Linked DNA regions of Homo sapiens. Changing the gene in region 2 together with the main gene of any one other region gives a genetic interaction. Each region holds a gene or a part of one and is shown on either strand. Other genes may lie near its edges. The genes, in order: TRAPPC11, NPRL3, CHRAC1, TRAPPC13, ARL5A, MAN1B1 and HDAC8.

What was found.
Region 1: changes in NPRL3 (region 2) and TRAPPC11 together harm fitness less than expected from each alone (positive genetic interaction), as found in Homo sapiens cells (one large-scale study listed by BioGRID).
Region 3: changes in NPRL3 (region 2) and CHRAC1 together harm fitness more than expected from each alone (negative genetic interaction), as found in Homo sapiens cells (one large-scale study listed by BioGRID).
Region 4: changes in NPRL3 (region 2) and TRAPPC13 together harm fitness more than expected from each alone (negative genetic interaction), as found in Homo sapiens cells (one large-scale study listed by BioGRID).
Region 5: changes in NPRL3 (region 2) and ARL5A together harm fitness more than expected from each alone (negative genetic interaction), as found in Homo sapiens cells (one large-scale study listed by BioGRID).
Region 6: changes in NPRL3 (region 2) and MAN1B1 together harm fitness more than expected from each alone (negative genetic interaction), as found in Homo sapiens cells (one large-scale study listed by BioGRID).
Region 7: changes in NPRL3 (region 2) and HDAC8 together harm fitness more than expected from each alone (negative genetic interaction), as found in Homo sapiens cells (one large-scale study listed by BioGRID).

The regions. Positions count from the first base shown.
Region 1 is NC_000004.12:183,661,999-183,666,075, forward strand, and holds part of TRAPPC11 (trafficking protein particle complex subunit 11), read left to right. Parts: intron 1-1,848; 5' UTR 1,849-1,869; coding exon 1,870-2,073; intron 2,074-4,077. UniProt on the Homo sapiens protein: Involved in endoplasmic reticulum to Golgi apparatus trafficking at a very early stage.
Region 2 is NC_000016.10:89,910-93,986, reverse strand, and holds part of NPRL3 (GATOR1 complex protein NPRL3), read left to right. Parts: intron 1-661; coding exon 662-768; intron 769-1,261; coding exon 1,262-1,391; intron 1,392-4,077. UniProt on the Homo sapiens protein: As a component of the GATOR1 complex functions as an inhibitor of the amino acid-sensing branch of the mTORC1 pathway.
Region 3 is NC_000008.11:140,514,100-140,518,009, reverse strand, and holds the end of CHRAC1 (chromatin accessibility complex protein 1), read right to left. Parts: intron 3,642-3,910; coding exon 3,515-3,641; intron 2,885-3,514; coding exon 2,763-2,884; 3' UTR 856-2,762; downstream 1-855. UniProt on the Homo sapiens protein: Forms a complex with DNA polymerase epsilon subunit POLE3 and binds naked DNA, which is then incorporated into chromatin, aided by the nucleosome remodeling activity of ISWI/SNF2H and ACF1.
Region 4 is NC_000005.10:65,631,253-65,635,329, reverse strand, and holds part of TRAPPC13 (trafficking protein particle complex subunit 13), read right to left. Parts: intron 30-4,077; coding exon 1-29.
Region 5 is NC_000002.12:151,825,159-151,829,993, forward strand, and holds the start of ARL5A (ADP-ribosylation factor-like protein 5A), read right to left. Parts: upstream 3,264-4,835; 5' UTR 3,019-3,263; coding exon 2,973-3,018; intron 1-2,972. UniProt on the Homo sapiens protein: Lacks ADP-ribosylation enhancing activity.
Region 6 is NC_000009.12:137,100,243-137,104,319, reverse strand, and holds part of MAN1B1 (endoplasmic reticulum mannosyl-oligosaccharide 1,2-alpha-mannosidase), read right to left. Parts: intron 3,316-4,077; coding exon 3,167-3,315; intron 2,837-3,166; coding exon 2,648-2,836; intron 2,642-2,647; exon of another isoform or gene 2,564-2,641; coding exon of another isoform or gene 1-2,563. Other genes in the region: uncharacterized protein LOC124902313, read right to left, coding at 110-1,544, 1,581-2,563. UniProt on the Homo sapiens protein: Involved in glycoprotein quality control targeting of misfolded glycoproteins for degradation.
Region 7 is NC_000023.11:72,566,116-72,570,192, forward strand, and holds part of HDAC8 (histone deacetylase 8), read right to left. Parts: intron 2,770-4,077; coding exon 2,639-2,769; intron 1,916-2,638; coding exon 1,774-1,915; coding exon of another isoform or gene 1,770-1,773; exon of another isoform or gene 1,682-1,769; coding exon of another isoform or gene 1,642-1,681; exon of another isoform or gene 1,467-1,641; intron 1-1,466. UniProt on the Homo sapiens protein: Histone deacetylase that catalyzes the deacetylation of lysine residues on the N-terminal part of the core histones (H2A, H2B, H3 and H4).

The DNA.
Region 1 (4,077 bases), on a different chromosome or scaffold from region 2:
AACAATCCTCTGGCCTTGTCCTCCAAAAGTGCTGGGATTATAGGCATGAGCCACTTGTGCCTTACCTGAATTCTCTGTAATATGCTGGTATAGATTATCTTTTAAAAGAACCTCATTTGGGAGGCCAAGGCTGGCAATCGCCTGAGGTCACGAGATCAAGACCATCCTGGCCAACATGGTGAAACCCTGTCCACTAAAATACAAAAAATTAGCTGGGTGTGGTGGTGCATGCCTGTAGTCCCAGCTACTAGGGAGGCTGAGGCAGGGGAATCACTTGAACCCGGGAGGTGGAGGTTGTAGTGAGCTGATATTGGGCCAGTGCACTCCAGCCTGGTGACAGAGTGATACTCCGTCTCAAAAAAAAAAAAAAAAAAGAACCTCATGTTGTTACATCCTTTTGCAAGTAAGATTATATTAAAAATATAATGACAGTCTTGTTCGGGATAAACATAGTTTTATATACTTATAAAGTCAGGGCATACGTTAGATTTATTATGGACTGATTCTTAGCTAAAGGACGCAGTGGAAACATCCTCCGAGAGGTTTCCATTCATTGTTAGTTTTTCCCTTACAGATTTTTCTTTAAAGAGTAAATTTTATATTGTGGGAAATGAGACAACATAGCTACTATTTAGATAATTACATAAATTAAAGGCTATTTTAATAATATCCTAGGTATTCAGAAATTCAATATTAGCAATTACAGAGAAATTAGGGGAAGTTTATTATATGTAAGTCAACTGTTTTTCTTTTATATTTTTCTTTCAATATATTTTTCTTTTATAGTTGAAATAGATCATGTAGATCTATTTTAATTTTATCACCTTCTTGCTTTCTTGGTCTACTAATTTCAAAGTTCTGTGTGCATTTTGAGACATTACTGAAAATGCCGATTTGTCTTAAAGTTGACTTCATTTTTAACATGAAAGATTTTTTCTTAAATGTCATATAGTTATTACATTTTAATAGATCTAATTCAGGAATTAAAGTTTTCCCTTTTTCTCTCTTCTGTTTGTTTGACAGTTTGCAGATACTCAAAGCCTTTTGCCTTTTTGTAATGATTATTTTATTTATTTTATTTTTTTTGAGACAGAGTCTCACTCTGTCACCCAGATTGGAGTGGAGTGCCGTGATCTTGGCTCACTGGAGCCTCCGCCTCCTGGGTTCAAGTGATTCTCCTGCCTCAGCCTCCAAGTAGTTGGGGTTACAGGTGTGTGCCACCATGTCCAGCTAATTTTTTGTTTTTTGTTTTTGAGACAGAGTCTCCCTCTGTCATCCAGGCTAGAGTGCAGTGGCGCCATCTTGGCTCACTGCAACCTCCACCTCCCGGGTTCACGCCATTCTCCTGCCTCAGCCTCCTGAGTAGCTGGGACTACAGGCGCCCACCACCACGCCCGGCTAATTTTTTGGATATTTAGTAGAGACAGGGTTTCACCGTGTTAGCCAGGATGGTCTCGATCTCCTGACCTCGTGATCTGCCCACCTAGGCCTCCCAAAGTGCTGGGATTACAGGCGTGAGTCACCACGACCAACCAATTTTTTGTATTTTTAGTAGAGACAAGGTTTCACTGTGTTGGCTAGGCTGGTCTTTAACTCCTGGCCTCCAGTGATCCACCTGCTTCGGCCTCCCAAAGTGTTGGGATTGTATGCGTGAGCCACCATGCCTGGCCTTGTAATGATTATTTTTTTGTAATGATTTTTAAATAGAGATTCATATATTGGAAATGAATATGAGTTGTTTTTTTTTTTTTTTTTTTGAGACAGAGTTTTGCTCTTGTTGCCCAGGCTGGAGAAATGAATATGAGTTTTTAAAAATTAATTATGAATGTATTAACATTTGTATTTCAGGTTTTTTGTGACATCGTAAACATGAGCCCCACACAGTGGGACTTCCCTGTGGAATTATGTTGCCGGCCTATGGCCTTTGTTACTCTAACGGGCCTGGATGTAGTTTATAATGCAGTCCATCGAGCTGTCTGGGACGCCTTCTGTGCAAATCGGAGAGCTGATCGAGTACCAATTTCTTTCAAGGTGCTCCCAGGTGACCATGAGTATCCCAAATGTAGACCCAAGGTAATGGCATTGTGATGGCATGTGTTCTTTCCTTCTCTCTCTCTATGTGTGTGTGTGTGTCTTTTTTGTTCTGTTGTGTGTGTGGAGTTTATCAAGACAGTGGTCACAGTGGTGCATAAAGAAAGCCTTAGGCATTTTCATGTAATACACTGCATGTATATTTAATAATAGTTCTTTTTTTTTAAACTCCAGAGGAATAATTACTTTATAAAGCTTTCTATCCTATGAGCCCAGGTTTTCCCTTTTTTGTTTTTAGGAAAAAACCCAACATAGTCCCCTCTAAAAGGAAGGTCTTGCATTCCCCACCATCATTACTAATGTCGTTTTTGAATCCCATGGTCTGTGCAATGTGGCTCAATTTCACAGATTTTTTGAGCACTTGCTTTGTGATAGGTACCTGGAACCATGCAACAAGCTAGTGATACGAATTTAAGTGAGACAGGTTCCCTATTCTTGAGGAGTTTTACATAAACTAACACAGTTTATTCATTGCGGAATGAAGAAAGGTATTAAGTTCAAAACTGACTTTTAAGGTGAACGACATAGTAAAGACGACTTTACCTTAGATAATAATTATTATCATGATGATAGTATCACTAATAGCTAACATAGTTGTAAAAAAACAGTAAAACAGTTTACTGTTTTAAGCAGTTTATGTGTAGTGATTTGTTATTTATCATAATCTTATGAGGTTGGTTTGAAAGTTAGGTGATAAAACCCTTTTAGTTCTGACCCCTATCCTTTTTTTTTCTTTTGCCCTAGAGCAGTGTCTCTGACATAGTAGTCTCTGGACCAAGTATGTCATCATAACCTGGGGTATTTATTAAAAATGTAGATTGCAGCCCTCCTCTTTGGTTTCTGGGAATATAGGACTTGGTCACCGGCTGATTATTTTTGTGTGTGTTTGAGAACCACACGACAACATTTCATATACTCAGCCCTGGAAACTGAGCTCTCTGAAATTGTGCAAGTAATAGCATCCCAGCCCTGGCCCTCACACGATTATTTTTCTTTTCTTTCTTTTTTTTTTTTTTTTTTTTTGAGACGGAGTCTCGCTCTGTCCCCGAGGCTGGAGTGCTGTGGCGCGATATCGGCTCACTGCAAGCTCCGCCTCCTGGGTTCGTGCCATTCTCCTGCTTCAGCCTCCCGAGTGGCTGGGACTACAGGCGCCCGCCACCACGTCCAGCTAATTTTCTGTATTTTTAGTAGAGACGGGGTTTCACCGTGTTAGCCAGGATGGTCTCGATCTCCTGACCTCGTGATCTGCCCACCTTGGCCTCCCAAAGTGCTGGGATTACAGGCGTGAGCCACCGTGCCAGGCCTACATGATTATTTTTCTTTAGTGTCATGTTTGTGTCAAGAAGGCAGGGAGCCCAGCACAAGCCCTCTTTTCTCTTAATGCTCGAATTCAAGCTGCTTTTCATTTCTCTATTCCCAGCTTTTGGCTGAGTCCCCATGTTATTTTGTGTCAGACTTCCTTATTGACCTCATCTTTCCTTGCTGGAGGTAGACATTGGATCACCATGAAGTGGAGTAGTCTGAGCCAGCACAGCTGATTTGGAAGGAATGTGAGGTTTCAACTGCATCCCTCAGGGCTAACACTCAAATCTACAGCATCCTCTTCCCACTCTGTGGCACTCAGTGCCCAGACTCAAGTGGCTGCTGTGAAGCTTCTGTTTAAGAATTGTTCTCTGCTTTGTACTTCATCTACAAGTGAGGTGAAATGCATCACAGCAATATGTCTTTGAAATAAACAAAGCCTATTGGATTTTAGATAATATTTTATTTGAGCAGTTTTACAAGAACAGAAGCTGGAATGGTGAAGAATATAAGTAGAATTTACCTGGAAATGGGCTACTTTTTTTTTTTTTTTTTTCTTTAGCAAAGTATTTGAGACCCTTGACATCATTAGACATGCATCATCGTTTTATGCATTCAGTTATGGGGCTGATAGAAACTCTTTGGCTTCAGTCATTCTTTAAATGGGAAGTATAGCTTCTCCAG
Region 2 (4,077 bases):
CAGCACCCCAGACATTCCCATGCTTGTGGCCTGAGACCACCATTCTTCAGTGGGAGTCAAGACAGCATAGGATGGGAAAACAGTGCCACCAAACAGCACAGGGAGCAGTGACAAAAAGGCCATTGTGGCCGGGTGCGGTGGCTCATGCCTGTAATCCCAGCACTTTGGAAGGCCAAGGTGGGTGGATCACGAGGTCAGATCGAGACCATCCTGGCCAACATGGTGAAACCCTGTCTCTACTAAAAATACAAAAATTAGCTGGGCGTGGTGGCATGTGCCTGTAATCCCAGCTACTCAGGAGGCTGAGGCAGGAGAATCGCTTGAACCTGGGAGGCAAGAGGTTGCAGTGAGCTGAGATTGTGCCACTGCACTCCAGCCTGGGCGACAGAGCAAGACTGTCTCCAAAAAAAAAAAAAAAAAAACCATTGCTCACAGAAAGTGCTGTGTGCTGGCTGTGCCCCACATCCTAGTGAGAGGTTGCGAAGGTGCTATTCCACGTTAGGGAGGAAGTCTCGGGCCATAGCCACCAGGTGTGTTCTGCATGAGGCTGGGGCCAGCTTCTCCAGGCTGGTAGGCCATGGCCACCCAGGCTGAGAGCTGCTGACAGCTCCCGGTGGGCCAGCCTCAGGCATGGTCCTTGCAGCTTCCCTTTTGCCTGCAGGTTTTCCAGCTTGCAGCTCATCTGGTGTACTGGGGCAAGGCCATCATCATCTACCCGCTGTGTGAGAACAACGTCTACATGCTGTCTCCCAATGCCAGCGTATGTCTGTGAGTGCTGCTGGCTGCCAGAGCCTGGAGCCCCGAGTGGGAAGGGGTGAGGCTGGCAGGGCCCTCCAGATGCTGTTCTCTGTGTTGGCCAGGCACCAAAGGCTGTGGAAGCCCCAAGGCCAGGCTCTCACTTCAGCCTAACTCCTGGCCACTAGCATACCCAGGTCCCAATTCTGGTCTGGCTCTGTGCTCTGTGGCTCTCCTGTGTCCCCCATATGCCTGGCCCCCTCCTCCAGGCTGGCTCTTCTAATCCACCTTGAGGGATCAGAGGTGAGATGCAGGATGAACTGTGCCCATGGCTCCTGCTGCTGCTCAAGGGGAAGTGCCCAGGCTCTGTCCACCTGGAGGCCTGCCTGGCCTCATACCGTTCTGCCCTCATCGCACTGTCCTGACCCACCTGCCACACTTTGCTTCTCTGCTGCCCACTGAGGCCAGTGTTGAGAACACGGTGGGGGGGTCTGCTGCACTCACTGGCATGCTCACCTGCCTGCAGGTACTCCCCGCTGGCCGAGCAGTTCTCCCACCAGTTCCCATCTCATGACCTGCCGTCCGTTCTTGCCAAGTTCTCCTTGCCGGTCTCCTTGTCAGAATTTAGGAATCCCCTGGCCCCCGCTGTGCAGGAGGTGAGTCACAGAAGCTCAAGGAGCCCAGAGTGGCAGGTGTGTAGTGGATAGGCACTACCTGCCTGGCTGTTGGTTCTGATCTGAGAGCCCTCAGCACTGCCACCTGCTTCTCCTTGGTTTTGGGGGCTTGCCGTGCAAGTGCTACGTGCCCAGCAGGACCCAAAAGTCAGCTGCCGGGCCACCTGCAGATGCTTGGCCAGTGACCCAACACTTGAGCAGTTGTTCCCTCCCCATAGAGCCCACCCTGGCTGTGGCAGGCAGTTTTTAGTGTTAGAACCGAGTTAAGCAGGAGAGTGCTTACCTTTTCTGGGCCTACAGACCTGCCTTGTACCCCTTTGGGACTGGGGACTGCCTACAGATGAGGGTGCAAAGGCAGTTTTGTTCTCACTGGGCCAGGCCTGACCCTCTGAGAGTTCTGCTTCTGTCTTCACTCCCTGCCATGGTTCAGGTGGCCACAGGGTCTGTGGGTATGAGTTCTGGGGTCACTGGTCCCCAGAATCTCCTCATTCAAGAGAGCCTAGAGAGGACCCTAGTGGGCCTGGATCAGGGCAACGGGCAGGCAGGTTGGGAGCTAGGAGTGGCTGGGGGATAGGAGGCCTCCTGCAGGTCTGTGGGATGAACTGGTGCACCTGCATCTGTGGCAGGGCCAGTGGCTTCCCCTGTGGGCTGCAGGTGTCATAGCCTTGTGCTGAGGTGGCTTTGCCATCCTCCCCTCCACTGAGTTCTGGGCAGAGACTCAGAGCAGGGCCAGATAGGATACGGTGTTGGAGACAGACGAGCTGGGTGTTCTCAAGTCTTTGTCTCCAGAAGTATCTGAGTAAGTGCCAGATCTATTAGGCAAAACCAGTCCTTAAAGTTAAACCCTTTCCGTTCTCAAATTACGAATGAGAACGATTCTGGCTTTTCAGCTCCGTTAGACGCTAAACCTGACAGAGCTCTCAGTGCGGTCTTTCACAGAGCCCTTGGTTTCTGGGAGCTGAGCCAGGTTGTACCAGCTGAATAAAAGGCACTCTCTGCACCCCTGCTCTTGGGGCAGTGCTTAGGGAGGAGCTGCTGGTGCTCCCTTCTCAGAGGCCTCCTGTGGTCTAGATAACGGAGTGGCTTTTCCAGGCCATGACTGAGTGGTTGCTCCAGGCCTTGTCAAGGGGCCTAGGTCAGCCAGGTTCTGCCTGGGCTCCAGTGCTGGGAAGCCCCTCTGTTTTATTTTTGGTTTATTGATTTTATTTAATTTTGATTGCACGTCAGGCTGGAGTGCAATGGCATGATCTCGGCTCACTGCAACCTTTGCCTCCCGGGTTCAAGCAATCTCCTGCCTCACCCTCCCGAGTAGCTGGGTTTACAGGTGCCCGCCACCACGCCTGGCTAATTTTTTGTATTTTTAGTAGAGACGGGGTTTCACCGTGTTGACCAGGGTGGTCTCTAACTCCTGACCTCAGGTGATCCACCCACCTCATCCTCTCAAAGTGCTGGGATTACAGGCATGAGCCACTACGCCCAGCTTTTTTTTTATTGTTTTGATATAGAAACTTGCTTTGTTGTCCAGGCTGAAGTACAGTGGCGTGATCTTGGCTCACTGCAACCTCCGCCTCCCAGGTTCAAGTGATTCTCCTGCCTCAGCCTCCCAAGTAGCTGGGATTACAGGTGTGTGCCACCACACCCGGCTAATTTTTGTATCTTTAGTAGAGATGAGGTTTCACTGTGTTGGCAAGGCTGGTCTCGAACTCCTGAGCTCAAGTGATCCACCCGCGTCTGTTTTATTTCTTAAATTCATGTGAAGTCTGGATATCTTGCAGTCCTTTTGACCAAGTCTTCTTACTTGCCTGGGATATATCCCCCATTCCCATCCCCAGTTCCCCAGCCCCCTCCCAGGAGGTGACCCTGGCCAGCAGCTCCTTGTTGACCCTCCCAGAGATGAGTAGACAGATGTGTATCTGAGGACACTGATGTGTCTCACACTCCTTACTGTTCAACGCCTGAGTCTGGGCAGTACTTTCTCATGGGGACTGGACTCTACCTGGCACAAGGCTCCTCACTGCTCCTCACTGCCAGCCCCACCTGCTAACCCAGAGACATTGGAGGGCCTGGCCAGGACGTGCCTTCTCACGGTGGGGGTGGGGGTGGGGTGCTCCACCCCCAAGCCCAGGGTCACTGGCCTCAGCTTTCTTGTGGATCCACTCTTGTGCTCAGGGTGGACTTTCAGGTAGATCCAAGGAGAGGACTTTCTGCTCTCAGGGTACCTGCCCACAGCCTCTTTTTAAACAGTGTCTGGGCTTGTGTGGAGGTGGACTTGCTGGCTGGGTCCAACTCCAGGGCCAGTGGGCCAAAGAAGAGAGGAGGCAGAGGGGCAGCTGCAGCAGCACAGGGTGGGGGGTTTGCTCAGCGAAGCAGTCACAGGGGCCTCCACGTCTCAGGTCCTGCTCCTCAGCCAGATGCTGGGTGGCCCCGGTGTGTGGTGGGAGCCTGTGCAGGTGTGATCCAGATGTTCCCCTGGCCCCTCTCCCTTCCCAGGAGGGTGAGCGGGCCTTGCAGAGCTGGCTGGCAGCTGGGGGCTCCCTTTCTGAGAAGAGGGCCTTTCTGCCTGTGCGTCAGCACAGGGAGCGTGCTGTGGCCATGTCTAGGGCCATGGCTCCCTGATCACCCAGGAGGAAGTTGGAGTGGGGAGGGGGACCAGCCTCACCTGCTGCCA
Region 3 (3,910 bases), on a different chromosome or scaffold from region 2:
AGGTGGGCGGGTCACTTGGTTGAGCTCAGGAGTTCGAAACCAGCCTGGCCAACATGGCAAAAATCCATCTCCACTAAAAATACAAAAATTTGCCAGGTGTGGTGGTGGGCGCCTGTAATCCTAGCTACTCAGGAGGCTGAGGCAGGAGGATGGCTTGAACCTAGATAGGAGAAGTTGCAGTGAGCCAAGACTGCGCCACTGCACACCGCCCTGGGCAGCAGAGTTTGCGAGACTCCATCTCAAAAAACACAAACAAAAACCCTGTACACAAATACTTATAGGGCTTTATTAATTATAGTCATCAAGGCCAGGTGTGGTGGCTTATGCCTATAATCCCATCACTGGGAGGCCGAGGTGGGCGGATCATTTGATGTCGGGAGTTCGAGACCAGCCTGGCCAACATGGTGAAACCCCATCTCTACTAAAAGTACAAAAAAATGAGCCAAGTGTGGTGACGCCGTGCCCGTAATCCCAGCTACTCAGGAGGCTGAGACCCAAGAATCGCTTGAACCCAGGAGGCGGAAGTTGCAGTAAGCCATGATCATGCCACTGCACTCCAGCCTGGGTGACAGAGTGAGACCCTGTCAAAAAAAAAAAAAAAAAAAATTACAATCATCAAAACTAGAAACAATCTAAATGGGTAATTATCCATATACCTGGAAAATGGATAAACAGATACATCCATACAATGGAATCCTACTCAGCAATATAAAGGAATGGACTGCTGATACCTGTGACAACACGGATGAATCTCAAATGCATTCTGCTAAACAGAACAACTGCAGACTCAAATGCTACATACTGAATGATTCCATTTATATGACATTCTGGAAAAGACAGGCCACCAAACTGGTCTGTAAGCCAAATCAAGTCATTTTTTAATGGCACATAAGCTAGCAAGTATTTACATTATTAAATGGTTGGAGAAAACAGTATTTCATGACACATGAAAATTACACAAAACTCAAGTTTCAGTTTGCAGAAATAAAGCTCTATTGAAACACAGCCACCTGCATTCCTTCATCTAGTAATTACCTGGCTGCTTTCGTGCTACAACAGCTGAGTTCAGCAGCAGCAACAGAGACTATAAAAGCCCACAAAGCTTGAACTATTTACTGCATGGCCCTTTCCAGAAAAAAATTTGATGACACCTGGTATAGGGACAGAGAATAGCTTGACGGTTGCCACGGTAAAAGGTGGGGAAGGAGCTGACCACAGGGAATTTACTGGAGGGTGATATAGCTGTTAATTGTGGTGGTGGTAGTGACTTGACTGCATTTGCCAAAACTCAGAACTGTACACCAAAAAGTAGATTTTAAAATATTTTATTTTAAAATAAATGTCAATGAACAAGAGGGACAGAAAACACCAGTGGTTGCTAGGGGGCAGGAGAAGAGAGGAACAGAGGAACAGAGGGGAATGTCCTGGGTGGCAGAACTGTCCTATCGATTGGTTACAAAACCATGCATTTGTCAAAATTCACAGACTAGACACTAAAAAGGGTGATTTTACTGAATGTAAATTATAAACTTTTTCATTTTTAAAAAAGAGATAATGAAGGCCAGGCATGGTGGCTCACGCCTGTAATCCCGGCGGCACTTTGGGAGGCTGAGGCAGGTGGATCAGTTGAGGTTAGGAGTTTGAGACAAGCCTGGCCAACATGGTGAACCCCGTCTCTACTAAAAAATACAAAAATAGGTTGGGCATGGTGGCACACGCCTGTAATCCCAGCTACTCAGGAGGATGAGGCAGGAGAATCACTTGAACCTGGGAGGCGGAGGTTGCAGTGAGCTGAGACAGCGCCACCGCAATCCAGCCTGGGCAACTGAGTGAGAATCTGTCTTTAAAAAAAAAAAAAAAAAGATAATGAAATGAGAGGAGCCAAACATTTACCCTAAGTGGAAAAAAAAAATTGGGCTTATGATAGGTTTTCTCTTATAGACAGTAAAAAGAAGTGCCAGGAATTTAAAGCAAAGAACAGTAAGATGAGAGAGATCTCCAATATACAAAATGTTTCAAAATTTTTTTTTAGTACAACATGCTTATACAAGAGGTAAGACTTATTTTTGTATTTGATTTGATAATTTGACTTGGAATTTTTCTGTGGGAATAAAAGTGTTAGAATGCTTATTTTTAAATTTCTCAAAATTTGCAGGCAGTAAGCAAGGCCTTAAAGCCATAGAGGGCTCTAAAACTAGTTCCATAAAGCATTTTACTGTAAAAATATGTACAGATCTTTAATAGAAAAGTATATTTCTTTACAGTAGAAAAATATCTGAACAGTCAACTTTTCTTAAGACAAAAATTCAAATGTAACATACTACCTAAACTATAAATTTAGCTAAAACTGAATCGAGCTGTTTATAAGAACTGATTCCAAAATATACATATATGAATTTACATAACCGATATGTAGAAGCTCTTCAAAATCGACTGTAAATTGAAAAGTTAAAATTGGCCTTGCCTCTGCAGTTTGGAGCTGCAATGGCTGCCAGTATCGGCTGTTTTCTTGGTGCCTGAGCTGCAGGGTGGGCCTGTCGAGGAGGGGCTGCTGTCTGGGTCGCTTTCCCTCTGGCTGTCTGTGGCGTAGGTACATGAGGTGCTCAATCTCGGCCTGGAAAGAATACCTCGAAAGAATACCACACACTGGAACTCTGTGAAGAAGTGAAGACGCTAAAAGCGGGCAGTGCTGTGTTTACTTAGAGACAGTGGAGTGGGTCCAGGGCTGTCCTCGCCAGGCTGGTTTTTAAAGCACTTTTGGTTTAGGAGTCAGCTTCATCATGGTCACTTTCATTATCATTGTCATTCTCCTCATCTTCTTCCCTCTTTTCCTCTTTAAGCATTTTCAGGTATTTACTAGCTAAAATCTTCTTTGGTAATATATCTTAAAAACATAAAGCGTACATCAGCAATTGGTTATGGTAGACTATGAACACAGCAATGCACATTTCAAAATGTACTAGTTCCTGCTTTGACCTCTATAAGAGGTTCCAAAACAAGATGAAATTCAGGCTGCATTTCTGGGTAAAATATCAAAGAAACTAGCATTGTCTCCTAACGAACGCTATAGGCCTCTTTCCAGTCCAATGAGTACAAACCATGGTGTCTCTATGAGCTGCTTTTATGAGCAACCCTGCCCGACTACCTGAGATAGCCTAGGCTAGCCCCAGGGTAGACTTAAGCTCTAACTACGGCCATGTAGACCCACCCTGAGTTTTCCCTTCAGTGGCAGGCAGGGTCCCTGTAGAGAGTAAAGGACTGCCCAGCATACGCGGCCAACCAACATCTTGTGAATGTTGTTGGCTTCACTATTGTTCTAGGTGGACCACATGACAAACACATTCAAACAGAGAAGACTAAAAGTATCTTCCTGTGACAACTCATAGTACTTTGCGGCTTGGAAAAAGTAGCAAAAAGTCTAATTTTCCGTGAGAGCAGAAGGGAGGCAAGGGGTGGGGAAAGAGCTATTGATTACTAATCATTTTTTAACCAGAATGTTTCAAAGACTAAGTACCTGCAAGAAACTGAAAAGTTTCTGATTGCTGTGCAGTGTTTGCTAAATCACTGTAAGTCAGTACTTTCTTTTCCTTTCCACTGCCGTGTCTGTAGGAATAGGTGGCTAGGCATTGAACAAAGAGCTCCTAGAACAAAATGAAAAATGCAAATGAAAGGTGTGCTTTGAAAATGTACCACAGAAATTAATTTTTAAAATTACATTGTTGATTCCTTAATTAGGCTTAAAAGTATATTAAGACTTCAGATTCTCTTGGTTTCTCAAATTAAATTACAAGAAATCACTGGGGAGGCCAGGCGTGGTGGCTCACGCTGGTAATACTAACACTTTGGGAGGCTGAGGCAGGCGGCTCACTTGAGGTCAGGAGTTTGAGACCAGACTGGCCAACATAGTGAA
Region 4 (4,077 bases), on a different chromosome or scaffold from region 2:
GAATAAAGTAGGCTTAGTCAGCCGCATCACTGTGAAGTAAAAAAGTAAAAGAAAACAAAACATTAATACTGCTTAGGGTTAATATTCTCAAGTCTAGTGTATGACATTCATCCATTTTATACTAACATAAAATATAACCTAAATACTTCCTAAATATAATACTACATACTTCCTAAGGTTATCACACATCAGTGATTTATTAAGAATTGTAATGTTACAAAATAAGCACCATTTATTTACAACCTATGAATTATAAAAATTAAATGTAAATACAATATGCATTCATTATAGAAAAACTGGAAAATATAATTTTTAAAGCTTAAAGAGTATTAGGAGCATAAGGCTTTAAAAAAATTCTAAGTGATTTCACCATAAACAATATCAACAAAATATTAACTTTGGAAACTCAGTAAGTGTTTTTTGTTTTTTTTTTGAGACAGGCTTACTCTGTCACCCAGGCTGGAGTGTAGTGGTGCGATCTCGGCTCACTGCAACCTCTATCTCCCAGGTTCAAGAGATTCTCCTGCCTCAGCCTCCTGAGTAGTTGGGATTACAGGAATGCACCACCATGCCTGGTTATTTTTTTTTTTTTTGTATTTTTAGTAGAGACGGGGTTTCACCATGTTGGCCAGGCTGGTCCCTAACTCCTGACCTCGAGTGATCTGCCTACCTTGGCCTCCCAAAGTGCTGGGATTACAGGCATGAGCCACCATGCCCGGCCAAGTGTTTCTTCAAGTAATATTAATTCTGTGTAGAAATTACAAAAATGTCAGAAAACATATACGTTTATATAATTCCAATCAAAAGTAAGATATTATTTTTGGAACATGACAGAATGTGTCTAAAGTTTATTTAGAGAAACAAATAAATGAAAATAAGCTAAGGAAATTAACGGAGAAAAAAGAGGAAGAACTGAATTTACTACATATTATAACATATTTAAGTCCATAATCAACTAATTGACTTATTAATATAAGACCATACCGATATATTAGTTTTTCAAAAAAAAGATAGGATATACTTATATAAAGAAATTGCTGGGAGTGGCCAGGCATGGTGGCTCACGCCTGTAATCCCAGCACTTTGGGAGGCCAAGGCGGGCGGATCACGAGGTCAAGAGATTGAGACTATCCTGGCTAACACGGTGAAACCCCGTCTCTACTAAAAATACAAAAAATTAGCTGGGCGTGGTGGCGGGTGCCTGTAGTCCCAGTTACTCGGCAGGCTGAGGCAGGAGAATGGCATGAAGCCGGGAGGCGGAGGTTGCAGTGAGCCGAGATTGCGGCACTGTACTCCAGCCTGGGCGACAGAGCAAGACTCCGTCTCAAAAAAAAAAAAAAAAAAAAAAAAAACGCTGGGAGAGATATTTTAAAAAACAACCTCTTGACAAAAAAAAATCAATTAAAGGATTAGAAGTTAAAAAAATCAATTAGCAAAAGGATTATTCATTATAAGGTGCAAAGACATGGTTAGCTATCTGGGAAAATAAAATTTAACTAAAAAATTCACTTTAAATATAAATAGACAAAAATTAAGCCACAGAAAAGTAAAAAAAAAGAAATTGAATATTTATTATAGTCTAATGAGTAAACACTCTATAATTTTTTTAAAAATCTTTTTCAGTTACTTCTAAAGACTGTCGTTTGACCACATCAAAATAAAAACAAAAACATAAAATTAAAAAATCATAAAAACTTGTAAAATTTTTCAGAAAATGAATCACAGAGGGCTAGTTCATTATTAAAAGTATTCCTTCAAATCTGGCTGGGCACAGTGGCTCATGCCTGTAATCCCAGCACTTTGGGAGGCCGAGGCGGGCGGATCACGAGGTCAGGAGATCGAGACCACGGTGAAACTCCGTCTCTACTAAAAATAAAAAAAATTAGCCTAGCATGGTGGCGGGCGCCTGTAGTCCCAGCTACTCGCAGAGGCTGAGGCAGGAGAATGGCGTGAACCCGGGAGGCGGAGCTTGCAGTGAGCTGAGATCGCCCACTGCACTCCAGCCTGGGCAACAGAGCAAGACCCCGCCTCAAAAAAAAAAAAATTCCTTCAAATCAAAGCCAAAATACTATAAAGACTATAGACCTACATGGTCAATTCAGAATATAAGTAATGTTCTAGCATATGTAAAAATGTACCACCCAACTACTAATTAACCAACTATGGCATTCATATCAAATTTAGTGGCTTTCTCATTCTGGTTTCAGCTTAAATGTCATCTTTTTCAGAAAAAAAGTAACAGGTCATTCTGTTTCACTCATGGTACCTTGTATTTATCATGCAGTATATTTATTTGTTTATAGCACTCCTTTCCAAACTCCATGAGGTCTAGGCTCTTATGTACTACGTTCAGTTTTGTAGCATCCATATTTGGTGTAAGTTCTGCTATTCAGATCTTCCCTGAATAAAATAATTAGCACTTCATGAAAGTCCCTAAATAACTGACATTATTTTGAAAGTGTAAGTTTCAGAAACTGAAGGCAATTAAAAACCTGCTATATTAAGCAGCTGGCTTTTGAAATAGTCAACAAATGCTACCCTTAAAATTTCTGAAGTTACTCTGTATAGCTAGCATTTACTGAGCATTTACTAGCGCCAGGCATTATGCTAAATATTTTACAAGCTGAACACATTTAATTCTCATGAGTACTCTCTAAGTTGGTATTACATTAACCCCAATATACAGATAGGGCATTGACAATACCTGCAGAGGGTAATTTGCATACAAAGGATTATATTAGTAGATAAGTGGTAGAATCTAGATTTGAACCCTGGTGATTTCACTCTGTTGAAAAATAATTCTCTATAATAATTATTAATTATAAGCCTGGAGCCATAAACCTGGAATGTCATGCCTTACCAGAAATACCCCATGGGAATTCAAAGTAGGAATGTATTCCAAAGAGTATTAATCAGCTACAGATGAATATGGGGAGGCGTTTCCAACCTTCACTCTTATTTTTAACTACGAAAACAGAGAAAAAGGTGCCCTGAAAACAGATAAAAAGGTGCCCTGAAAGTGATACACAGGAGGCAGTTTCTCCCAATTTAAACAGCTAAAATCACTAGACAGGGTCTCATTTTGTTACCCAGGTTGGACTACAGTGGCACGATCATGGCTGACTGCAGCCTTGACCTCCTGAGCTCAAGTGAACCTCCTGCCTCAGACCCACCCCCTACCCCCGCCCACCAAGAGGCTGCGACTACTGTCGCATGCCACCATGCCCGGTTAATTTTTGTAGTTTTTGTAGAGACGGAGTTTCACCATGTTGCCCAGGCTGGTAAGTTCACTTTTAGTACCAGTTGGTGTTTTCTATTTCTTCCCTATTATTTTTTTCATTTCATTAGAAAACAAATCTGAATAAAGAGAAAATACAGTCTCAAGGGAATCCTGAAACATTCCTTTTTTTTTTTTCTTAGTGTCCTGGAGTTCACCCAAACATGTAGCTAACATATTTGCTTATTATAGGTTCCAATTTCTATTATAAAGAAAAGTCCTATAAAGCTTAGTTTTTCATGATTCCTGTGGTTTAGCAGGGGATGAGATGGTGGGTAAAAAATGATCCTCCATTAAAAATAAAGTGATCCCAACTTGGTATTAAAAGCAACTTTTTTCTTCATATTTTCAGATTATGGCCTTTGCAGCAACGTAGATGCAACTGGAGGCCATTATCCTAAGCCAATTTATGCAGGAACAGAAAATCAAATACCACATATTCTCATAAGTGAGAGATAAACAATGAGTATACATGGACACAAAAAACAGAACAATAGACACTGAGGCCTATTTGAGGGTAGAAGGTGGCAGGGGGTGAGGACTAAAAAACTACCTATTGGGTATTATCCTGATTACATGGGTGACAAAACTATTTGTACACCAAACCCCTGTGGCACACAATTTACCCATATCACAAATCTGCACATGTACCCCTTGAACCTAAAATAAAAGTTAGAAAGAAAAAAAAATTAGTGGGCTTCCATTTTAAGCAACCTCAGCCATCTCAGGCTATGAAGAATCCCTCTGAAGGGAATGTTTACCATGCATTATCAAGCTCCTACCATGACAGGCACTGAGCT
Region 5 (4,835 bases), on a different chromosome or scaffold from region 2:
GGTGTTAAAATATTTGTTTATTGAGAACAAGTAAACCACTGATCACAAGCTCTTCTATAAAAAAAAGTTACTAATGGCAACTTTTCGAAGTTCTAAAGACAACTTAGAGATTAGCAACTGAAAAAGTTAATGGGGGGAGGAGGAGGGAGGGAAAAATGATGTCAATCTCTTCTTTAAGAGATTCCTTCAGGGTTTTAACTTGCCTGGCTCTGGCATATACCAGTTGCATGGCCTGGGGAAAAAAAATCATTCCACTTAAGCCTCAGTTTTCCCTTTTCAGGGGAAATAACTACTTCAAAAGATTGTTAAAACATAAAATAAAATAAAATAAAATGATTTAAATGACAGCATCTAGGATAAAGTTTGTACTCTACTGAATCTCAGTATCAACTAAATGTGACCTCTGGTTTTTCTAGTTCGAGCGGTATACAAATAGCTTTCACTGTGCACTCAATCTGAGCTTTAACTGAAAAAGCTGTTCTCGAGGGGTTTCAGAAACAGGAGATACTGCATAGTTTAAGTTTCATCAGATGGCAAATTCTGTAATCTCCCGAAACATACTTTCCAAGAGTTTCTATGAAAAGAAAGTAAGATTGCATTCTGAATCCACTGAAGGTAAAACAAGAGCATCCAACACATATCTAACTTATATATGTCCTATACAGAAAAAAAAAAAAACAACCCTGCTGGGCACCATGGCTCAGGCCTGTAATCCCAGCACTTTGGGAGCCCAAGGCGGGTGGATCACGAAGTCAAGAGATGGTGACCATTCTGGCCAACGTGGTGAAACCCCATCTCTACAAAAAATACAAAAATTAGCTGGGTGTGGTGGCACGCACCTGTAGTCCAGCCACTCGGGAGGCTGAGGCAGGAGAATCGCTTGAACCCAGGAGGCACAGGTTGCAGTGGGCCAAGATCACACCACTGCACTCCAGCCTGGTGACAGAGCAAGACTCCATCTCAAAAAAACAAAAACAAAAACAAAACCCAACAAATATCTGGCATTAGATTAAATGGTGGATATTCGGAAAAGTGACCCTATTGATAAGACAGCCACACTGTTTAGCAGAAAATAAATAATTTATTCACACTTTCACAATATTCATATCTAATTTTCTAGAACTTAACTTCATTAATTTCTCTATTAATTTCCGCCAAACTGCCATAAATGTCCCGTCAAAAATTACCACAAAATACAGGTTATAAAAACACTACTATTAGCAATTTGTAGTGATACCAGAGCACACACCCTTATTATTTACTACTCCAAGGAGCTGTTGGCAAAGTTCTCATTTATTCTTAACTTACAGAAACAAATAATTTTATCATTGACTCAAAATAGAAAGTGGTGATAACTCTTTTTCTGGCAGCACTAGAGCTCAATTCACAGTCTTGCTAAACCTCACAGCAGATGAAACACTAGCTTTGCTAAAAATAATACAAAATGATGGATGTTAAAACTAGAATAGATCTTATCTACTATAAGTACCATCAGTCTTACAGCAATGTACGTTTTAATATTTGCAATGTAGAAATAAAGTTTACAAGATTTGGAAGCTCCACAGATCCCTGGTGTTCTAGGTGAGAAAACCTAGACCAGAAAACCTGAGAGTTCAAGTGACTGCTTCCCACTCTCCTGCTCCCAACACTAACAGCCAGTCCAGTCAGAGACAGTGCTGATTAGAACTGATTTTCTCTACTTTATGAAAAATCCTCTTATCAGAAAAATTGATACTGCCCTTTCTTTCGGTATCACGTGACCTACACATCTGTGTGTGTGTGTGTGTGCGTAAAAGATACATTAGGGATCACAAGTTCTAGTTCTGCTTGCTTCCCCTAAGCTTCTTAAAAGAGCAGCTAGATCATGAAGGAGGAGGTGGTAGTAGTAGGTGTACATAATAGATGCCACCATTCACGTAAGTCTTTATTGGAAAACTGGGACGTGACACCATCAGCTTACACAACAGAAAAACACAAACTAAGTTCCTGACAGCGGAATGATGAACCACCCAACTTGAGTTAAAAAGAAACAAAAGTACACCACTGTATCTTAATAAGTATCCAGTCTTTGGGTTAAAATTGTATTCTCTTTCCCCAGTTTTAGTCATTTTGTAACAAATTTTAACAAGCCTGATAGGTATTTCATGGCCATGTCTGAAGTTGGCTGAACTTAAGCATCCCTATATAACACACTTTACACTTAGTAACTTGCTAGTTACCTATGGTTAACAAATGTTTCATATGGTATGTTTTTAAAACTTTCAGTGAAACACTTTAACATTTTTAACCCAGCAAAACAAACAAAAACTGTGTCTAATAACCCACACGAGTAGAAAAATGACCTTAAGCTTAACCTTAAACACAGATATAATAAGTAAAACAAATGGAGAGAAGTCCATCTCTATTCAGGAGGCAGAAGAACCCCCCCTGCCCCCAACACACACAAAGACGGGTGGCAGTGGAGGGCAGGCTCATAAACCAGAGGTGTAATGGACAAGTCGAGCGATTCCTCCCGTTTTCCGCATTCTGCAACCCTCGGTCGCTCAGTGGTGCGGTTAGGGCAGCAATCTATAACCTTCATTCCAGAAGACCCCAGCACTTCTATGTGGTGTCCAAACACAACTGGTGAGCAAAGAAAGGGCTGAAAGACAGGCCAGGCCGTGCTACTCAGGGACGTCGGACCTAGGGCAAGAAACCTTTACCACTCTCATTCGAAATCGGAGCAATGGGTCTATTACGGAAAAGACTTCTTAGGAAGGTCTCCTAAGACAAAGGGCTGCGAGTCAGGAACCATCCCCAAGCTCGGGAGCCGGGACCGAACCGTCCCGGGCCCGTATCCGCGCAGCCTGCACCCCGCGCTGAGCTGGCGCCCGACCGAGCCGCCCACATTCCGAAGTATTCGGAGACCCCCACCTAGCCGGCCCGAGCTGACCCTCTCCCCAACCCGTACGCCCGCGGACCGAGCTCCTCACCCTGGTGATTGAACAGTCTCCATATTCTAGTGAAGAGAATTCCCATTCTCGGGCAGCGGACCCCCCCCCTCCAGACACCCGGGCCGCCTGGCTTCCCCCGGCTCAGGCTGAGGGGGAGGAGAGAGACGCGCTGGAGCCTCCGCCTCTGCTGCTGCTCCCGCGCTGGTCGCGGGCCCGCTTCCAGGGAACCGGAGGGAGGCCGAAGCCCAGGCCGCCCTGCCGCGCGCAAGGCCCCGCCGCTGCCGCCGCGGCACTCGCCTGGCTCGCGGACATCGCCGCCGCGTTGTCTGCGACGAGCCTCGCGGGCCACCGTCCTCCCCCAGCTCCTCTCGGGCGGCTGCGGTGGCGACGACCACGCGGGCGGGGGAAGTGAAGGGGCGGGCCTGGAGGGACGTGAGTGCGCAGGCGCGCGGCCAGAGGGGCGGAGCGTAGGAAAGGGCGCCCGCCCTGTCCTCGCTTATTTGCATAACCAAGACTGCGGAAGGCGCAGGACTTTACCCTGGGACTGAGGCTGTGAAGACCGCAAGTTGGGGCAGATGGCTTCCGACTGCTTGCTGTTGCGTCCCCGAGTATTTATATTTCCCTCGAATCTTCTCCACTGCGCCATAATGTAAACATATAATTGAGTACCCCATGTCCATCCCCAACCCTTCACATACACTACACTTAAAGTTCCACGTCATGACTCTTTAAGACATTGTGTCCCCTGTGGGTCTTTGAGGGAAAAGTCTGCTGCCCTCTGACACTCAGCTGAAGTCAGTGGCCTTACCTAGATAGTCACCTTAAAGCCATTTTTGCACTTCAGGGCTCTTTTCTCTCCAATCTCTTAACTCTCACGTCAGTATTGCCCAAAACAACGATTTTGATCAAGTCACTACCCTGTTTAAAAACCTTTAGTGGCCACCAAAGCTCCATCCCTTTCTGTTCTCGTTAACCTTAGTAAAAAGGAAAATAAAGAAAAATTGGGAGACTTGTAGGAGCCATTTGAACTGCTTTGCACTCCCATCCCCAACAGCTGAATGAAATTAAGCAAAATCAGCAATAAACCGCACCTTCCCAACTCACTTCTCCTAACTACCCAGTATTTTACCTCAAAATATAGAAAAGTAATTTCGTTGACTTCTTTTGGGGCTTTATGGTTAAAAAGCCAAAGTTTAGAGGAGCCATACATGAAGGGAAGGAAAATCATAGTAATCCATATTAATTTATGTATTATCATGTCTGGATTTACTTAATATTCTGTACACTGTTTAGAAGAACAATGTAGTTTGTATAACCAATTTGCATTAACTCTGTAATATTTCCATTCTCGCACACCGTAGGTAATGCTTTGGTAGCTCTAAGACTTTTTCAGACTCCCACACAGATGTCAACTTATGAAATGGATGTCATATACACATTATGTGATGGCGGAGCTTCATATTTTACAATCTACCCAAGGAAATGGTCTCCCAGGTTATTTTCCGAGTGAAGAAAGAAGAGAGAGAGAGAGACAGAGACAGAGAGTTTAAAGACCAATTTATCTATGATTACAGAGAAATGCAAAATGTCATTGGAGAGACTTCTGACTTCAGGCATGAGAGAGTAGGATGGTTTGAATATATCCTCCTACCATTAGCAAATAGAAAACTGCACAAAGTACAGGCAACGACATTTCAGATATTGAAAAACACATCACAGTACTGTGATTCTTTGCAAAAGAGAAAGGAACAGGTGGAGTCTTACCATTTCCTGGACTTTATCCCTAAAAGCAATTCCCAGTCAACTACGGAGGAAGTGGGAACCCAAATGAGAATCTGGAAACCTCTTAGAACTGAAGACGCATATCAGCATTCCCAGAGATCAAGGTGACTAGAATTTGTG
Region 6 (4,077 bases), on a different chromosome or scaffold from region 2:
AGGTTGCAGTGAGCTGAGATCACGCCACTGCACTCCAGCCTGAGTGACAGAATGAGACTCTGTCTCAACAAACGAAAACAAAAAAAGGACAAATCGTGTGTGACTGCACTCACACGAGGAACTCCACACAATGAGGTCCAGGAAGAAAAACCTGAACAGTGTTTTTCAGGGACTGGGGAGGGACATGAAGGGTCACTGTGTGATGGGAGAGCTTCAGTTTTAAGATGAAAAGGGCTCTGGAGATGGAAGTGATAGCTGCACAACAGCATGAATGTGTGTAACACCACTGACCTGTACTCCTGCAACAGCGTGAATGTAACACCACCGACCTGCATGCCTGCAACAGCATGAATGTGCAACACCACCGACCTGCACGCCTGCAACAGCATGAATGTGTAACACTACCGACCTGCATGCCTGCAACAGCATGAATGTGTGTAACACCACTGACCTGCACGCCTGCAAGTGTGAATGTGTGTAACACCACCGACCTGCAAGCCTGCAACAGTGTGAATGTGTGTAACACCAACCTGCACACCTGCAACAGTGTGAATGTAACACCACCGACCTGCACGCCTGCAACAGCATGTGTGTAACACCACGGACCTGCACGCCTGCAACAGTGTGAATGTGTGTAACACCACCGACCTGCACGCCTGCAAGTGTGAATGTGTGTAACACCGACCTGCACGCCTGCAACAGCATGAATGTGTGTAACACCACCGACCCGCACGCCTGCAAGTGTGAATGTGTGTAACACCAACCTGCACGCCTGCAACAGCGTGAATGTAACACCACCGGCCTGCACGCCTGCAATAGCGTGAATGTGTGTACCACTGACCTGCACGCCTGCAACAGCGTTGTGTGTAACACCACCGACCTGCATGCCTGCACCAGCGTGAATGTAACACCACCGACCTGCACGCCTGCAACAGCATGAATGTAACACCACTGACCTGCACGTCTGCAACAGCGTGAAAATGTGTAACACCACCGACCTGCACGCCTGCAACAGCATGAATGTACCACCGACCTGCACGCCTGCAACAGCATGTGTGTAACACCGACCTGCACGCCTGCAACACCATGAATGTGTGTAACACCACCGACCTGCACGCCTGCAACAGTGTGAATGTGTGTACCACCGACCTGCACGCCTGCAACAGTGTGAATGTAACACCACCGACCTGCACGCCTGCAACAGCATGTGTGTAACACCACCGACCTGCACGCCTGCAAGTGTGAATGTGTGTAACACCAACCTGCACGCCTGCAACAGTGTGAATGTAACACCACCGACCTGCACGCCTGCAACAGTATGAATGTAAGACCACCGACCTGCACGCCTGCAAAAGCGTGAATGTGTGTAACACCACCGACCTGCATGCCTGCAACAGCGTGAATGTGTGTAACACCACTGACCTGCACGCCTGCAACAGCATGAATGTAACACCACCGACCTGCACGCCTGCAACAGTGTGAATGTGTGTAACACCACCGACCTGCACGCCTGCAACAGCATGAATGTGTGTAACACCACCGACCTGCACGCCTGCAAGTGTGAATGTAACACCACCGACCTGCACGCCTGCAACAGCATGAATGTGTGTAACAGCACCGACCTGCATGTCTGCAACAGTGTGAATGTGTGTAACACCACCGACCTGCACGCCAGCAACAGCGTGAATGTAACACCACCGACCTGCACGCTTGCAACAGCGTGAATGTAACAGCACCGACCTGCACATCTGCAACAGCGTGAATGTGTGTAACACCACCGACCTGCACGCCTGCAACAGCGTGAATGTGTGTAACACTGACCTGCACGCCTGCAACAGAATGAATGTGTGTAACACCACCGACCTGCACGCCTGCAACAGTGTGAATGTAACACCACCAACCTGCACGCCTGCAACAGCGTGTGTAACAGCACTGACCTGCACGTCTGCAACAGCGTGAATGTAACACCACCGACCTGCACGCCTGCAACAGCGTGAATGTGTAACACCACCGACCTGCACGCCTGCAACAGTGAATGTGTGTAACACCACCGACCTATACTCCTGCAACAGCATGAATGTGTGTACCACCACCGACCTGCACACCTGCAACAGCACGTGTAACACCACCGACCTGTACTCCTGCAACAGCAGGAATGTGTGTAACAGCACCGACCTGCACGCCTGCAACAGCGTGAATGTAACACCACCGACCTGCACGCCTGCAACAGCATGTAACACCACCGACCTGTACTCCTGCAACAGCATGTGTGTAACAGCACCAACCTGCACGCCTGCAACAGCATGAATGTGTGTAACACCACCGACCTGTACTCCTGCAACAGCATGTGTGTAACACCACTGACCTGTACGCCTGCAACAGCCCAAATGTGTGTAACACCACCGACCTGCACGCCTGCAACAGTGTGAATGTGTGTAACACCACCGACCTGCACGCCTGCAACAGCGTGAATGTAACACCACCGACCACGCCTGGAAATGGTTAAGGTGGTGCGTTTTGTGTGTTTTATCACAGTAAAAAACCTGAAAACACACATGCACATACACACACACACACAGTACCTGCTGTGATGAGCAAAAGGTAGCTCCAGGGGAGGCGCATCCAGCCAGAAAGCCTGCCCCCTTACCTGAAACTTCTTATCCCCTGTGAGACGGGAGAGCTCCCGGAACTCCAGCTGAATGCTGGTCACCTCGGCCACAGTGCTGTCGGAGGTCCACCGTGGCGGGTGGGCAACTCCAGTACCGATGTTCACATCCGAGTAAGGAATCTTGGATGGTGTTCTGAAGGCAGGCATTAGCCGATTTCCAAAATCCTCCTGGTATATGAGCAGAGTAGAGAACCAACGTTCAGGTCACCCAGAGGCCTCGTCTACACCCTTTCATGCAGTTCAGTGGAGACACTGAAGGCTCTCTGGGGTCAACACAGCAGCAAGGAAACGGGCATCACTCTGCACTGAGTGAATGTCTCTACAAGGCCAGTGGTGATCAAAGTGGCTTCATCAGCTCACGAATATGAGCTCAGAAACAGACTCCAGTGCATTTGAAGAGGAAACAGGAAGACAGTCACGTCCCCACAAGTCCACTAAAGGGGTAACTGCTTGAATGCGAGTCCACCATCTCCCTGCAGGACACCCCAAGACACTTACAGCTTTCCTCAGGAAGAGGCTGTCCCCAGACAGGTGGTAGGCACTCAGGAGCCCCCCCAGGATGCGGATCGTGCTCTCAAACAGGTTGACGTCCACGTCCTTTTCAAAGTGTAACTTCTTCGACACCCACTTCCTGGCTTCCTCAAATTCTATGACATAAAACAGTAAAGGATGCAGAGACAAATGGATGGCTCCAACGTTTTCCTATTATCTATCCATCTTCAAAATACATTTGGCTGGGCGTGGTGGCTCATGCCTGTAATCCCAGCACTTTGGGAGGCTGAGGCAAGTGGATTGCTTGAGCCCAGGAGTTAGAGACCAGCCTGGACAACATGGGAAAACCCCATCTCTACTAAAAACACAAAAATTAGCTGAGTATGGTGGCGCATGCCTGTGGTCCCAACTACTGGGGAGGGTGAGGCATGAGAATAGCTTGAACCCGGGAGGCGAAGGCTGCAGTGAACTGAGATCGTGCCACTGCACTCCAGCCTGGGCCACACCACTAGACTCTGTCTCCAAAAAACCCACGTTTGAAACCAGGAGGCCAAGGTTGCAATGAGCCGAGATTGCGCCATTGCACTCCAGCCCAGGAGACAGTGAAAGACTCCATCTCAAAAACAAAAAAACAAAAACAAAAAACCAAACCCATGTCTGGGGCGTTATCGTTCCCCTGCAGGGCTTCAATATCACCTCCTATCTCAAGGGGGTAAATCTTGAAGTCGTCAACATTTGTTAATAAAACGGAGTCAGCAGTGCAGTTGCTATGGCCACCAATGGGTCACAACCAAAGGCTACGACCCAAAAAAATTACACACGTCGTTTACTGGTGGTCTTCAACCTATTCAAAAAATTAGGCAAATGTTTAAATTATCGCTTAAATAACCGAAGACACATACTCCCAATTCAAAGTG
Region 7 (4,077 bases), on a different chromosome or scaffold from region 2:
CAGCCTTGGTGACAGAGAGAGACTCTGTCTCGAAAAAAACAAAACAAGAAAGAAAGAAAGAGGCCAGGTGTGGTGGCACATACCTGTAATGCCAGCACCTTGGGAGGCTGAGGATGGAGGATCCCTTGAGCCCAGGAGTTCAAGATCAGCCTGGGCAACATAGGGAGACATTGTCTTTATTAAAAAACAAAAAACAAAAAACAAACAAACAAACAAACAAAGCAAGAAAAAAGCAAGCAGGCAAGCAAGCAAAAGCTAACAAAAGGCAGCTTGTCTCTGTTTTTAAAACCATGTAAGACTCATTACTAAAACATTGGTTTCCTTTGCTGTGTTGCCCAACTAGTAAATTCTAGCAGTAAACTTTTTCAAGGACTTCCTTGGCCACAAAATCTGTCAATTTGATGGAAAAAATTCTGTTATTATCTTAACCTGCATATGCTGAAGTTGTGCTGTGTTTTATTCTGAAAAACAAAGTGTTGTTTTCTCTTGACCTAAGAGCACCTAAGGTCACGGTTGATTGCATGAACAATTGATTCCTGAGTGAGGCATTGGCAGTTACTACCACAGTGGCTTCATTTCTCTCAGACAGAGGATCGATAAATTCAGAGTTTAAAAAATCCTTCTTCTTCAATGTGGATTAAGTACTACAGAAATATCAAACAAAGTCCCAAATGCTGAAGGAGGGCCCAGCAATCCTTCTCAGACAGACTACTGCAGTTTGACATGTTAACATAAAACTCTAGAAGGTGGCCAGGCGCGGTGGCTCACCCCTGTAATCCCAGCACTTTGGGAGGCCAAGGCAGGCAGATCACCTGAGGTCAGGAGTTTAAGACCAGCCTGGCCAACGTGGTGAAACCCTGTCTCTACAAAAATACAAAAATTAGCTGGGCATGATGGCGGGTGCCTGTAATTCCAGCTACTCAGGAGGCTGAGGCAGGAGAATCACTTGAACTGGGAAGGAGGAGGTTGCAGTAAGCTGAGATCGCGCAACTGCACTCTAGCCTGAACGACAGGGCGAGACTCTGTCTCAAAAACAAACAAACAAATAAACAAACAAACACTCCAAAGGACTTCTCCTCTAACTCCAAGAAGCACCTAGGAAGAGCCTTTTCACAAGCCCTTTGTCTTTGAGAGACATCTACCTCTGGGTTGCTACTTTCATTAGAGGAGCATGAGCCCTCTTCTTGATTCTTCAGCCTTTTGTTTTAAACCTATTAGCGTCAATTTTCCACCTTTTTAAAAATCTGTTTGCCACTTCTTTTAAGAACTAGCTCTAAAATTCACTTCTGCCAAGACTTCCATGATTAATTTCTTTCTACTGATAAGTCTCTTCAGCTCATACATATATTCCATTGGTACCATAACTAATGTTGTTCTCTATTCTAATTTTGTTAATGTTTCTAGACTGTAAGTCCCTCGAAGACAGGGGAATTTCTAGAAAGCCGAAAAGGAATTTAGAGACTGTCTAGTTGTATCCTTTGTTCATTTTATTGATGAAGAAACTGAGGCCTAGGGAGGGTAATCAGTCCAAGTCAGTTAGCCAAGTTAGAAAAACTAGGTGTAGAGCCCAGGTGTCCTGACTTTGAGCAGTGTGCTTTCCACTATATTAGGTAATCTTTTTTCTATTTCACTTGGATTTCTTCAGAATGCCTTGTAAAGTGCCACATACACACACGTCTCTCTGTAAATGTCAATACAATAAGCATAAGAGTTTACATAACTGAGAAACTGACTCAAGGAAAGAGTCAGAAAACAGAAAGGTCATTTTCTTACTTCTTTGCATGATGCCACCCTCCAGACCAGTTAATTGCTACTTTGCACATTCCGTCAATCAGGCATTGGGCAGCTGTGATCGTAGCCCCTCCTATAGCTGCTGCATAGTCAAATATCCCTTCAGTGGCTGGGCAGTCATAACCTTAGGGCAAAAATCAGAAGAGCTGGTTAAAAGGTGAACTGGAAAAAGAGGAGGAATAGGTTGAGGTGTGACAACAACCTAACCTACTAAAAAGCCACTGTGCTAATATCAGCTCCAACTGAGACAGAAACAACTCCAATGTTGGGGATATAATATTTTAAAAGGTTAGAGCTAGAAAGGATAAACCCTCCTGATGAACTAGTCACAGGCTACAGATAGAGAAACCAAGCCTGAGAGGTGATGTGTCTTGTCAGTGGTCACACAGAGCCAGGCTTGGGACCCAGCTCTGTTGACCCCCCAGTTCAATGTTCCTCTGCTAAACCATGCTGTTTTTCTAGACTATCCTGCAGGTCACTTACAGTTTTAAAAAATGCAGCTGTTTAATGAGGGGTGAGGTACAAAAACTTAGCCAGAACATAAATCTGTACTCCAGTTAAAATATAAGGTCACAGGACAGCTAAATCAGCATATACACAGCCAGACCAGATCTGAGCACTGCCAGTAGGGCATAAGCAACTGAAAGGTTTTCTTTCATCTAACCCTTCATGTGGTTTTGCTCAACTCATATGGTTTGCTTGTTTAGTGAGTTATATGTGGCTAAACCAAAAGATTAAGATTGACAGTTAACACATGATTTCTTAACGAAAAATATTAAAAAAATCATACAAGTTATAAAAAAAATTAGTCTGTCCATCTCCCATCACTGCCTGGTAATGACTTTACCTAGCCCATATTCTATGGAGTCCGGATGATCATCATCGCCCTCTTGGCTGACCTTCTGGAGATGCTGCAGATAAGCATCAGTGTGGAAGGTGGCCATCTCCTCCATGGAGGCCACTTTAGGCTTAACTATCCTAATAATAACAGAGAGAACAAAGAGAGGTCAGTGAGTCAGACCCAGCGTATGCCAGAAGCTAGAAACAGAAGCCAGCAGTCTGAGAAGAAAATACGTCTCAACTTCTGGTTCCAATAGGCTGGAGTAATAAACATATTCTGTTCTTCCACTGCACTGTGCGGTCTTCACTGCCTCACATCTACAGTAGTGACTCTATTAATAAGGGGCAAGAAGATAGATTTTCCCTTGAGTTTATAGGTAAGTAAACAAAAGTAATTATATTCAAGTTAAACAAATAATCAGGTATCAGACAGACTTTACCCTGTGAGTTACAACTTTCAGGACAAACTAGTAGGCAGGGATATTTTCATTTGAACCAGTTGCGAATTGGGCTATCTAATCCTTTCAGCTATATCTTTATTTTAATAGGCAGCTATGTTATCATGCATTTTGAATTTGGAGTCAGATTTGGAGTCAGAGAATTGGGTTCCTGTCCTAATTCTGTACTTACTAGCTCTATAACCTCAGATAAGTCAACTGTTCTGTAGTTCAGTTTTCTTATTTGTAAAATGGGGAACTTTATGGGACTTATGTGAAGATAAAAGGATAACACATACAAAAATGCTTGGTGGATAACTATCATTCTATTAACAGATAAAAAATGGGCAACCCAAAATGTAATGTTTCTAGACTTGGACCCTCCTATCTGCCTCTGAGAGCGAGGCGAGAAGGGGCAAAATGGTTGGAACCGGACTTCACTCAGAACCTCTCAACCTACTCCTCACGAAAAATGACAAATAGAAGCGAGTGAGGGAATAAAGGGAGCTAACCCAATAAGAGGCCTTACCACATCTAACCTCTAGCTGCCTATTCCCCATTTCCTCTTCTTGACCCCACAGCTGCCACTACTGTTCTCTAGCCCTTGCCACTTAAAGGGTGGTCCATAGACCAGGAGCATCAGCATTCCCTGGGTGCTTGTTAGAAATGCAGAACTTCAGACTTGCCTCAGACCTGAGTCAGAATTTGTATTTTAACATGATGATTTTTAAACAAGATGACACATTTTAAGGTGATTCATATACACATTCAAGTTGAAGGAGCCCTGACCTGGGCCACAGGGAGGCAGCAGTGGTTTTAAATGTCTGCTGAATGGGAACACAGCCATGAGTTTACGATGAATGAATACGACTATACAGGCTACTACTATCACCAAGGTAGCTGGAAGAAATCCTGTGGTTTGGCCTCAAAAGTGAAATACATAGCCAAGACCCAAGAATTCTTGCTTCTTCTTAAAGAAGACAAATCTATACCACCAGAGGTGAAAAAT